3 linked regions of the Homo sapiens genome follow. The protein of the gene in region 2 interacts with the protein of the main gene of each other region in a pairwise test. Each region holds a gene or a part of one and is shown on either strand. Other genes may lie near its edges.

Region 1 (3,750 bases), on a different chromosome or scaffold from region 2:
ATTTTTCCTTTTAGGAGGTATAATGTTAAATGGCAAAAAGAAGTGGGGGAAGGACCATCACAAATATATTTTTTAGGACAAAATATGCTACATTTCTACTTTACTGAATGTAAATATAACATCAGATTTTATAGTATCAGATAATATACATATAATATCAGATTTGTGGACTTACAGGTATACTGAAGGCTCAAATGGCTTTTACTGATTCATCTCTTAAATAATGGCAAATCACACATAAGAAACACATGCACGTATTTATTAATGAATGTTGGTGATGAGTCACTAAGTTTTGCAGGCTCTAGGAATAATCTTTAAATATTGGCTGGAATTTTATACTTGATGTCTTTCTATATTGCCAAATGGCTATGAAATAGAGCAATTTAAATAAAGAAACAAAGTGATTGAGGATATATTCCCTATGTGTTTTAGTCAGATCAATAAGACACAGTTATGCTTATGGAAGCGTGCTGACAAACAGTAATTACAGAGCTGAGGATCATCTGTTCAGTCTTGAAAATAAAAGTTTTATTCTGCTCATAATAAAATGATTGCAGCATCAGAATGAGGAAGGAAAGGTAGAATGAGGATAAATACAATTTTAGAAATGGTATAGACTTTGCAAATCACCACCTCTTCCATTGATAAATTTAGAATCTAGAGTTGAGTTAGATATTGACACTGGTTCTCCAAGAGAAAGGTAAAATAAAAGCAATCGGACTCTTTAGAGCTTTTGTTTATGGCCTGTCTGGGCCCTTTGTTGTAACCCTGTCATGCCCTTATGCTGATTACCTTCTTGTAGAACAAGAAGTATTGACTAGAGAATGAATGATGTGTAGTCCCTAGCCCTTAGGAAACTCTCTCAAAGAGCAATGTCTTTAACATATGAATTCTGTTTTTTTCCTCCTTTTACCTTTCCCTTTCCCTTTCTCTATTTTTCACCATCTCTTTTGTTTCTACCTCTTTTGGTCTCTGTGCTTGACACTCTCTCCTCTTTCTGTCTCTCTTTGTATCTCCTCAATCTCAGGCTTCTCTGCAGAATGTCAAACAAAGATCGACACATTGATTCCAGCTGTTCGTCCTTCATCAAGACGGAACCTTCCAGCCCAGCCTCCCTGACGGACAGCGTCAACCACCACAGCCCTGGTGGCTCTTCAGACGCCAGTGGGAGCTACAGTTCAACCATGAATGGCCATCAGAACGGACTTGACTCGCCACCTCTCTACCCTTCTGCTCCTATCCTGGGAGGTAGTGGGCCTGTCAGGAAACTGTATGATGACTGCTCCAGCACCATTGTTGAAGATCCCCAGACCAAGTGTGAATACATGCTCAACTCGATGCCCAAGAGACTGTGTTTAGTGTGTGGTGACATCGCTTCTGGGTACCACTATGGGGTAGCATCATGTGAAGCCTGCAAGGCATTCTTCAAGAGGACAATTCAAGGTTAGTGTCGGACCTGGGAATACTCTCCCCACTTCCAACCTCACATGATGGGTTTTTGTTTTTCCTTATTCTTATTCTCATAAGTCAAGTATCATAGTTTTAATTCTCTCTTGAGTAGAAAATGGAAATAGATTACAATTGATAGTGGAAGATTTATAGAATAAAATCCCCCCAGATATACTCCATATCTATTAATTTTCCTCTTACTGTTAAGCTTTAATGGTGCAAGGATAATAAACTTTGGGTAGAGTTTACAAGAGCATAGTTATTATTAGAGCAATGTGGGTCTATATAGCAACTGTACAAATGCACATTGGACTAACAGTGTTTTTGACCCCTTTGGATCTTCTTACAGATGCATGGAAATAATAAATACTTTAGACCAGTGATTTCCAAACTTGAGTGTGCATTAAAATCATCTGGAAATCTTGTTAAAATGCAGATTCCTGGGTCCTACCTCCAGAATTTCTGATTCATTAGATCTGGGGTGGGGGCCTGCCTGAGATTGTATATTTTTAACAAATTTTCAGGTAATGCTGATGATGCTGCCGGTCCAGGGACCAATTTTAAGAATCACTGCTCTAGACAAATTTAATTACCTACTCATCTTTCTTTTTTCCTTATGGTTGGATATACTTTTTCTAACTTTTAAATGAATTTATATTAAAAAAAACCTTCCAAATTATACCAATAAAATGGCATTGAATGATAAAATATACCTCCAACATATATAAGTGATATATACCCCAAACTTCATAGATTTCAGATTTATAAATAACATTATTTCCGCCATACAGTGTAGAAAAATAGGACTGAAATTTGTTTATGCCCTTTTAAACTGGTAATCTACAGATCTAGAATTCAGTTCATGAAAAAGCTATAGATATATATTCTGGCAAAAAAATTAGATTTCACGTTTTTAGGTCTCTTGTAATTCACTTTTGAAGAAAATAGGGGAAGAAAAAAATATATTTTGAGGATCCACAGCACACCAATGGTTCTGCTCAGTGGTTTACAAAATGTGTCTTCCTAACAACCAGTTATGGACACAAAGTCTATCTTCCCACATATCAGTGGTTCTCAAGCTTGCCAGCTCATTGGAATCAGTGGAAGACTTAAAAAAACATGCTGATGTCAGGGCTCATGTCCCCAAATTCTGAATTAATTGGTCTTGGGTACAGCCAGGGAAAGGGGGGTTTTTGAAAGCTTCCTAGGTGATGCTTAATGTAAAGGCAAAGTTAAGAAACACTGCACTGTACTGTGTTGTATTATTTGCCAACAGTTCTCAAAGTGCAGTGGCTGTACCAGCAGTACCAGCATCATCTGGGAAAATGTAAGAAATGCAAGTTCCCAGGCCCCATCCTGTATTAACTCAAACAGAATCTCTGAGGGTGGGCCTAGCAATCTGCATTTTACCAACCCTCTGGGTAATCCTGATGCTAATTCAAATTTAGACCCCCTGCTCTAGACCATGCTACTGCTGATTCACCACTGACCATAGACCATCATCATCTAATGGCCCCTTGCTGGACAGAACTGAAACTAATTTATGTGGAGCCTTCATAATTTTGTGACGTACTAGTTTTCAAAGTACAAAAGAAGTAATGTTTGTTAAGTGCTAATCCTTTTAAATATTTTCACAAAACATGATTCTGAAACCCTTTATGTGTACATAGAGCAGTCTCCCACCTTCTCCCCCTTTTTTTTTTCTTTTTGAGGCAGATTTTTACTCTTGTGGCCCAGGCTAGAGGGCAATGGCATGATCTCGGCTCACTGCAACCTACATCTCCTGGGTTCAAGTGATTCTCTTGCCTCAGCTTCCCAAGTAGCTGGGATTACAGGCATGCACCAACACGCTTCTCTAATTTTGTATTTTTAGTAGAGACAAGGTTTCACCACATTGGCCAGGCTGGTCTCGAACTCCCGACCTCACGTGATCCACCCGCCTCAGCCTCCCAAAGTGCTGGGATTACAGGCATGAGCCACCGTGCCCGGCCCACCTTCCCTTTTAAGAGCATCTGGAAATTCAACTCTTCTTCATCAGTTGCACTGAATATTTTAGTGACAATCCTTACTTGTACTGGCTCTCCCTTGCTTTTTTGTTGTCTGTTACATAACTTCCTTGATCTGTGGCTGATGAGAACACAATCAAAATGTTTACTTAGTCAGGTGCAGTGGCTCATGCCTGTAATCCCACCACTTTGGGAGGCTGAGGCTGGAGGATCCCTTAAGGCCAAAAGTTCAAGAGATTAATCTGGGCAACAAAGTGAGAACCCTGTCTCTATAAAAAATTTACAAATTAGTTGA
Region 2 (3,750 bases):
GGACCGCAGCCTGCCGCTCCGAACTGAGCCCGTAGGCAAGGTGCACCTGGGTGCCCGGGCCTCGGGGCAGCCCCTGCAGCACTGGGCAGACATGCTGGCCCACGCCCGGCGGCCCATTGCCCAGCGGCACCCCCTGCGGCCAGCCAGGGAGGTGGACCGCATGCTGGCCCTGCAGCCCCGCCTTCGCCTGCGCCTGCCCTTGCCCCACTCCTGAATGCACCACATGCCTCTGTCTCCCCGCTGAGCCCAGGCACTTGCCCAGGCCGCCCTGCAGGACCACTGCAATAAACGCCTTCTCCTGCCACTGTGTGTCCGGCTGGAGCCTGGAGGGGATGCAGAAATAGGGCCCGGGCCCGCTCACCAGGGTCCCCTGACAAGGACGGGGGAGGGGCTCCTCTCCAGACTCAGCCAGGCCCTGAGGCCTCTGACCGGTCCCTGCTTGACCCTCGGGTAGGGGTGGGGAACCTCCCCGGGGAGCACAGATCTCCCCTCTCCGGGCCGCCTGGGAAGACCGGGGAGGTGGGGGCCAGAGAGTCGGGACCACATGGGATGGGGCGGGCTAGAGCCAGCCCTGTAGGGACAGAGTGGGCAATGGTGTCTGGGGGCTGGTGAGCATGGAGGGAGGACCCCCAACACCTCAGAGACCTGTGCTGCAGGGCCTTCCCTGCATGAGCAGCAGGGGGCAGCAGATGCCTTCGGAAGCCGCTGGGGCCTTTAGGGGCTCAGTCCTGGCCGGATGCCCCTCCCAGTCCCCACACATCTGGGCTGCCTTAGCGGCTGGGGCCTCCACGCTGCTGTCTCCTCTGATCCTCCCCACGGGGCTGCGAAGCCGGCAGGGCTGGGGCCAAGAGCCCCCACTCCGAGAGGGTGCCAAGTCACGGTCCAGGGGACCTCTGCAGGGCGGGGGCCTGGGGGCTGGGGGGGCGATGGCCTCGGGCCTGGGTGAAAAGGGCAATGCCAGGCCTGCCCGGGCAGCCAGGAGGGCCCCAAGCCCCCACGGGTGTGAGAGGCTCCCAATGCAGGTGGCGCCATTCTCCTTAGGTTGAAGGATGTGTTCCAAGTCGCCCGGCAAGGGGACTGCAGCAGGGCGTTCTGGGCAGGCGGGAGGGGCCCAGAGGCACGTGCGGCGTGCCCCTCACTCCTGGTCCTGCTCCCCAGGCAGGAAGATAGCATCACGCAGGGAGGGGGCAGCCCCCAGCCCTCGGCCACTGTGGCAGGGCCCAGAAGGCCACATCTGGAGGTCCAGGCCTCACCCCAGAAGCCAGGCTTGCAGAAGGGGGTCAGGCCTGGGCTGAAGTGGGAAACCCATTGCAGGGGCTGAGCCGGGGAGCTGGCCCCGCAGGGAGAGGCTGTGGCTGTCGCCAGCAAGCAGCCAGGTTGGTGGACTGGACGCTGACCTCGGGTGAGATGGGCTGAGGCGAGGTGTGGATACTCGCAGCTACCCCTCAGCTGACCCGAGCTGTGTGCCCGGCTGAGGCCACAGGCAAAGCCAGGGACACTGTCCTCAGGCTCCTTACGAGAACGACAGAGGCATCTCCAGCGCGTCACCGAGCCCTAAATAGAGTAGCCCAGCCACGGCACCCCCCACCAAGACTTCTTGGACTGGGCGGCAGCACGCGGCCAGGCCAGGCGGCCGGACAGGTGGGGAGGTCTCTGTGGCTCTCCACGCCCCCATTGGTCTGAGGAGGACTCTATGCCCTTTCTGAGCAGGGGCCCAGCCTGGGGGAGGCCATTTATACCCCTCCCCCTGGGCCCACCAGCCCAACTCGCCGCTGCCGGCCTGACCTCGCTCCCAGCCCTGCTGCCCAGATTCTAGGTGAGGCCCAGCCCGGCCCGCCGAGGCCGGGGGACAGGGCGTGGCTCGAGCTGGTTTGAGGGAGGACTTCCTGGGGCGGGGGTCTGGGGGCCTGGGGGATGCCACCAGCAGCCCCCTTTGGGGCCTGCACGGGTCCGGGAGTGAGAAGGAGAGGCTTTGGGGAGGCAGCTGTAGCGAGAGGCAGGTATTAGACACTCCCTGACCACCAGGCTTCACCTCTGGGGACCCTGGAAGGAGAGTTTAGGGGTCAAGAAGCCCCAGAACCTGAGCCCCCAGGCCAAACTGAGGAGGGATTTCTTCCATGCACTTAGGCCCAAAGCCAAAGAGAGAGGGTTAAAAATAACAGCGTCACTCAGGCGGCCACCTGCGCTGGCCCATCCCACCCTCCCTCGGGGACAGCTGCAGCTCCTCAGGCTATGCCTGGGACATTTTGGGAACACTTTCTCCTCTTACTTCTCACCCTGGGGAATTCCAAGACATTGTCCTTGAAGGAGGTGAGAGTAGGGGGAGGAGGTGAGAGTAGGGGGTGGGCGGGAGGGGGCTGTCATCAGGAGCCCTGAACCCCTCACCACCTACCTGATGGGCACAGGCATCACGGTGGCAAGGGCCTGGCCAACACCTCTGTCTTCCTCTCCCCACAGGCTCCAAGCTCAGGACCTCAGGATGGGAGAGTAAGTGGTACCCCTGTACCCCCATACAGTGACCCTGCCCACCTCCTGCCCTGTCCACCCCATCACACACTCCGACCCCGCCAGCCATGGCCCTAACCTCTGTCTTCTCTCCCCGTCCTGCCTGCGTCCTCCCTCCCTGGACAGTGAGGAGGTAAGTAGTTGCTGGGGGCTCAAAACATGACGAGGAGGGGGCTCCCCCAACTCAGCATAGGTCATAGGTCACAGCCTCAAGGCCCTAAGGCCCAGAGAAGATGGCCTGGCCCTCCCCGCTGGCAAAAGTGCCCCACCCACCCACCAAGACGCTGCTGAAAGAGAGGAAGTGGCTGCCCCAAGCCTTCTGGGGCAGGGGAAGTGTGGCTGTGGCCTGGTCACAGGGGAATCACTTCTTCTTTCTGATTCCTGCACTTCCCGCCCCCACCTCACCGGCCGACCTGCCCCCAACTGGCCCTCCTCTCCCCCAGCCTCTGGCCTCCCAGCACCATGTGCCACCTGGCAAAGTGTCACACACCACACAGCACCATGTCCCAGTGCAAGGTCTGGGGCCAGGGAGGCCCAGCCTGCCCATCATGGCCTCAGGAGCCCCCAGGCTCTGCTGGTCCCGGAGCCGGAGCCCCTGACCTGGCCAGGGAGCGTGGAAGGGGGTGGGGGTGCTCCAGGCCTGGAGGCCCTGACTCGACCCCCTGTCCCCTGCCCTGCAGAAGCGGAACAGGGCCATCACGGCCCGCAGGCAGCACCTGAAGGTAGGTGTGGGCTCCCGGGGGGGTGGCCCAGGTGGGTCTGCAGGGGAGCTGGCTGCAGCCCCTCACCGCCTGCCCCACCGCAGAGTGTGATGCTGCAGATAGCGGCCACGGAGCTGGAGAAGGAGGAGAGCCGCCGTGAGGCAGAGAAGCAGAACTACCTGGCGGAGCACTGCCCGCCGCTGCATATCCCGGGCTCCATGTCTGAAGTGCAGGTACCAGCCCCTCCCCGGCCACCCCGCCTCCCCAGCAGCAGGCCTGCCTGCTAACTCAGTTTCCCCACTTGTCAAGAGGGCCAGTGGGGTGGTCAGGGCAGGGGCAGGTGACCGTGGCTGCCAAGTGTCAGGACGGCCGCCCGCCCCCACACCCACCCCTAGGAGCTCTGCAAACAGCTGCACGCCAAGATCGATGCGGCTGAAGAGGAGAAGTACGACATGGAGGTGAGGGTGCAGAAGACCAGCAAGGAGGTGAGTGGTGGCGGCGGGCCGGCGGCAGGCGGGTAGGCGGTGGCCCAGCGGGCAGGCGG
Region 3 (3,750 bases), on a different chromosome or scaffold from region 2:
GAATGAAATTGGATCCGTATCTCACACCATACACAGAAATCAACTCAAGCTGGATTAAAGATTTAAATGTGAGACTTGGAGCCATAAAACTAGAAGAAAACATAGGGAAAATGCTCTTTGACATTGGTCTGGGCAATGATTTTTTGGATATGATACTAAGAGCACAGGCAACAAAAGCAAAAATAAACAAGTGGCACTACATCAAACTAAAAAGTTTCTGCATGCAAAAGAAACAAGGAGCAACCTATGGAATGGGAGAAAATGTTGCAAACCATACATTTGACAAGGGATTAATATTCCAATACATATAAGGAACTCAGACAACTCAATTGCAAAAACAAAAACGACCTAATTAAAAAAAACGGAAAAAAGGACCTGACATTTTTTCAAAGGTGATGTACAAATGTCCAACAGGTATATGAACATCATTGTTCATCAAGGAAATGCAAACCAAAACCACAATGGGATGTCACCTCACCCCTATTGTAATGGCTACTATCAAAAAGACAAAAGTGTTGGTGAGGGTGTGGAGAAAAAGGAACCTGTTGGTGGGAGTGTAAATTGGCACAGCCACTACGGAAAACAGTACGGGGGTTTCTCAAGAAACTAAAAATAGAATTACCATATCATCCAACAATCCCACTTATGGGTATAAGTCCCAAAAGAAATAAAATCAGAATCTCTAAGAGCTATCTGTATTGCCATGTTTATTGCAGCATTATTCACAGTAGCTAAGATATGGAAACAACGTGTCTATAAACAAATGAGTGGATAGTATATGTACACACACACACACGTATGTAATGGAATATTATTCAGCCTTAAAAAAGGAGGTCCTGCTATTTGCAACAACATGGATGAACTTGGAGGACATTATGCTAAGTGAAATAAGCCAGACACACAGAAAGACAAATACTGCATGATCTCTGTTACATTTTCAAAAGTCAAACTCATGGAAACAGAGAGTAGATGGGTAGTTAACCGGGGGTGGGGGTAGAGGAAATGGGAAAATGTTGGTCAAAGAGTACAAACTTTTAGTGATAAGAAAAACAATTTCTGATGTACAGTGTGGTAACTATGGTTAATAATTATTCTATACTTGAAATTTACTAAGAGAGTAGTTCTCAAGTATTCTCACCACACATACAAAAAAGGTAACTAGTGAGTCGGTGGATAAGTTAATTAGCCTGTGTGGTAATCATTCCACAAGGTATATGTATATCAAAACATCGTGTGGCACACCTTAAATATATGCAATTTTTATTTGTCCATCATACCTCAGTAAGACTGGAAAAAAATAGAGGAAACTGAGTGAGAGAGGTATATGGGAACTCTGTATTATATTTGGAACTTTTCTGTATATCTAAAACTATTCTAAAATCCAAAGGTTATTCAAATATAAAATCCTTTTATAATATAAAATAGTGTCTATATTAAACATTCCATGAATTCTGTACTTAGAATTATTGTATAATTTTATTGTTTTTAATGCCATTGCTTATACATGTTTTTGTACTCAAGAACAAATTGGATACGGCCTCTAGAGGACAGTGTTGGGTCATAGAAAGATTTTACAATTTCTGCCCAAGTTGAAGATGGTCATAATCATTTTTCTTCTTCTTTTCTAACCACAAGTCCTGTTTATTCGTTGTCCCTCTGTAAAAACAACAATAACAAAGAACACTTATGACCCCTCTGCTGTTCTGACTAGTTGGCTGTTTTGTTTTAACTTATTTTCGTATAATTTTGGTTCCACAAACATCTATTAGGCAAGAAAGATCTGCGGAGTTGGCACCATAATGTTCACATCCCTGAGGGTTTGTGAAAGTTGTGAGGGAACCCGGGGAAGCGATATGAGGCGTATATTATGTGTCATTTGTGAGTTCTTCCACGATGGAGACGGAATTATAGAGTTGAACTTCCTTTGGAAAAACAAACCACGGTTCGTAGCTTGATCAGGGTGCATGTAAGCTAAAGAGGGGTTTTGGTCTTTTAAAGGTTGAGACTGCCTGCTCTACAGTGGTTTGTTGGTGGTGGGAGGAAAGGAAAAAAACCATTGCTCTTGCTTCTGGAGCAAATTTCTGGAGTAATCAGAATAGCAACTCAACATTTTAATTTTAAAATTCCTCCTCCGGAGATAACCTCGTAGGATTGCCATTGTATTTGCCCGGGGCTCCTGAGGTGGGGAGTTGCAGAGTGCTGCTCAAGTGCGTCAGAGCCATATGAACATTCACCTGCAAAATGCTCGCCTTGGACTTAGAGGCAGCTGAAGACAATTGTTCATGAATGGATGGGCTCAGAAATTCTGAAACACACAATTCTGTCATTGAATGCGCTGAATTTTCTGCCGAGAGTGGAGTCTGAGGGTTCTACCTTGCTAGGTGTGAATCTAGTATAAACATTAAAAAATAGGAGTCATTTGGATGATGGTGTGTTCCACTTAGCAGCAACCTATAGTTTTTCGTTTGTTTGTTTTTGCTCGAAGAATAAATCTGTCCAAAGCTCATCTGCTGAATTGGGATCTTTGAGCCTTTTAATAGGAGTCTTGAGAGGGAGTGGAAAATGTACAGCTCCTTATAGATAGCCCGACATGAAAGTTAAGGTCAATGGTGTTTTGTTCAGCCACTCCATCCAAGTCGAACCCACGGGCAGGGATCTGTTTTGTTCTCATTTACTAGTGCTAAGTGCCAAACATTCTCTTTCTCAGGTATAGTCTTCTAATTTAGTGGTGGTGTGACAAAGTTCTATTTACCATATAGGTACTTAATACGTATTATGATGATTTAAGATGTAGTTGGTCCTTGAGATCGTGATTGGTCCCCTCAGCTGGTCCCTCACTCAGGATTCCTTATCTCAGGGAAAAGCATCACCTTATCCCAGTGGTATAAGTCAGAATCTTGGGAGTCATCCTTGAATCCTCTGTTTTTTCCATCCTTACTCATAATGAATGCAGGACCAGGTCCTACCAATTTCACTTCTTAAATATTTTTTGAAGCCATCCATTTCTCTCTCCATGGCCGCCACTCCAATCTAAGCCCTTGTCATATCTGCTTAGACTACTGAAGAAGCTGCCTCACCCTCAAGCAGTGTGCTCTTCCAAAACATGCATCTATGAGACCGTCACTGATTTCCCATTGTTCTCAGGCTAGCAACCTTATCACTGTCATGGACAAGAAGGCCCTGCCGTCGGGCCCCTGTCTCTCTTTCTAGCCTCATCTTGAAGCCTTCTCCCTGCTCCTTGTACTCCAGCCTCCTAGCCGCCAATGTGTCAGCAGAGAGTCTTCGCGTATTCAGTTTCCTCTAGGTGACTGTCTCTCCCCTGCTGTCTCTGTCTCATTACCTTCTACTCATACTCTCTAAATCAGCTGGAGTGTTATTTCCTCATGGATGACTTCCCTGGTCTCCTGGTCTAAGAAGTGTTCTTTATTTTTTTATTTTTATTTTATTTTATTATTTTATTTATTTTTTATTTTTTTATTTATCTATATATATATATTTTTTGAGACGGAGTCTCGCTCTGTCACGCAGGCTGGAATGCAGTGGCCTGATCTCGGCTCACTGCAAGCTCTGCCTCCTGGGTTCACGTGATTCTCCTGCCTCAGCCTCCTGAGTAGCTGGGACTACAGGCGCCCACCACCATGCCTGGCTAATTTTTTGTAGTTTTAGTAGAGACAGGGTTTCACCGTGTTAGCCAGGATGGTCTCCATCTGCTGACCTCGTGATCCACCCACCTCGGCCTCCCAAAGTTCT

The links.
Region 1: the proteins of TNNI2 (region 2) and ESRRG interact in binary tests that used the Homo sapiens proteins (3 or more experiments, as listed by UniProt).
Region 3: the proteins of TNNI2 (region 2) and DRC8 interact in binary tests that used the Homo sapiens proteins (3 or more experiments, as listed by UniProt).

What each region holds. Positions count from the first base shown.
Region 1 is NC_000001.11:216,674,769-216,678,518, reverse strand, and holds part of ESRRG (estrogen-related receptor gamma), read left to right. Parts: intron 1-1,027; coding exon 1,028-1,443; intron 1,444-3,750. UniProt on the Homo sapiens protein: Orphan receptor that acts as a transcription activator in the absence of bound ligand. Binds specifically to an estrogen response element and activates reporter genes controlled by estrogen response elements.
Region 2 is NC_000011.10:1,837,218-1,840,967, forward strand, and holds the start of TNNI2 (troponin I, fast skeletal muscle), read left to right. Parts: upstream 1-1,763; 5' UTR 1,764-1,816; intron 1,817-2,251; exon of another isoform or gene 2,252-2,310; intron 2,311-2,457; 5' UTR 2,458-2,479; coding exon 2,480-2,487; intron 2,488-2,631; coding exon 2,632-2,638; intron 2,639-2,989; exon of another isoform or gene 2,990-3,006; coding exon of another isoform or gene 3,007-3,021; intron 3,022-3,185; coding exon 3,186-3,227; intron 3,228-3,310; coding exon 3,311-3,439; intron 3,440-3,601; coding exon 3,602-3,691; intron 3,692-3,750. Other genes in the region: SYT8 (synaptotagmin-8), read left to right, coding at 1-214. UniProt on the Homo sapiens protein: Troponin I is the inhibitory subunit of troponin, the thin filament regulatory complex which confers calcium-sensitivity to striated muscle actomyosin ATPase activity.
Region 3 is NC_000001.11:245,077,679-245,081,428, forward strand, and holds part of DRC8 (dynein regulatory complex protein 8), read left to right. Parts: intron 1-3,750. UniProt on the Homo sapiens protein: Component of the nexin-dynein regulatory complex (N-DRC), a key regulator of ciliary/flagellar motility which maintains the alignment and integrity of the distal axoneme and regulates microtubule sliding in motile axonemes.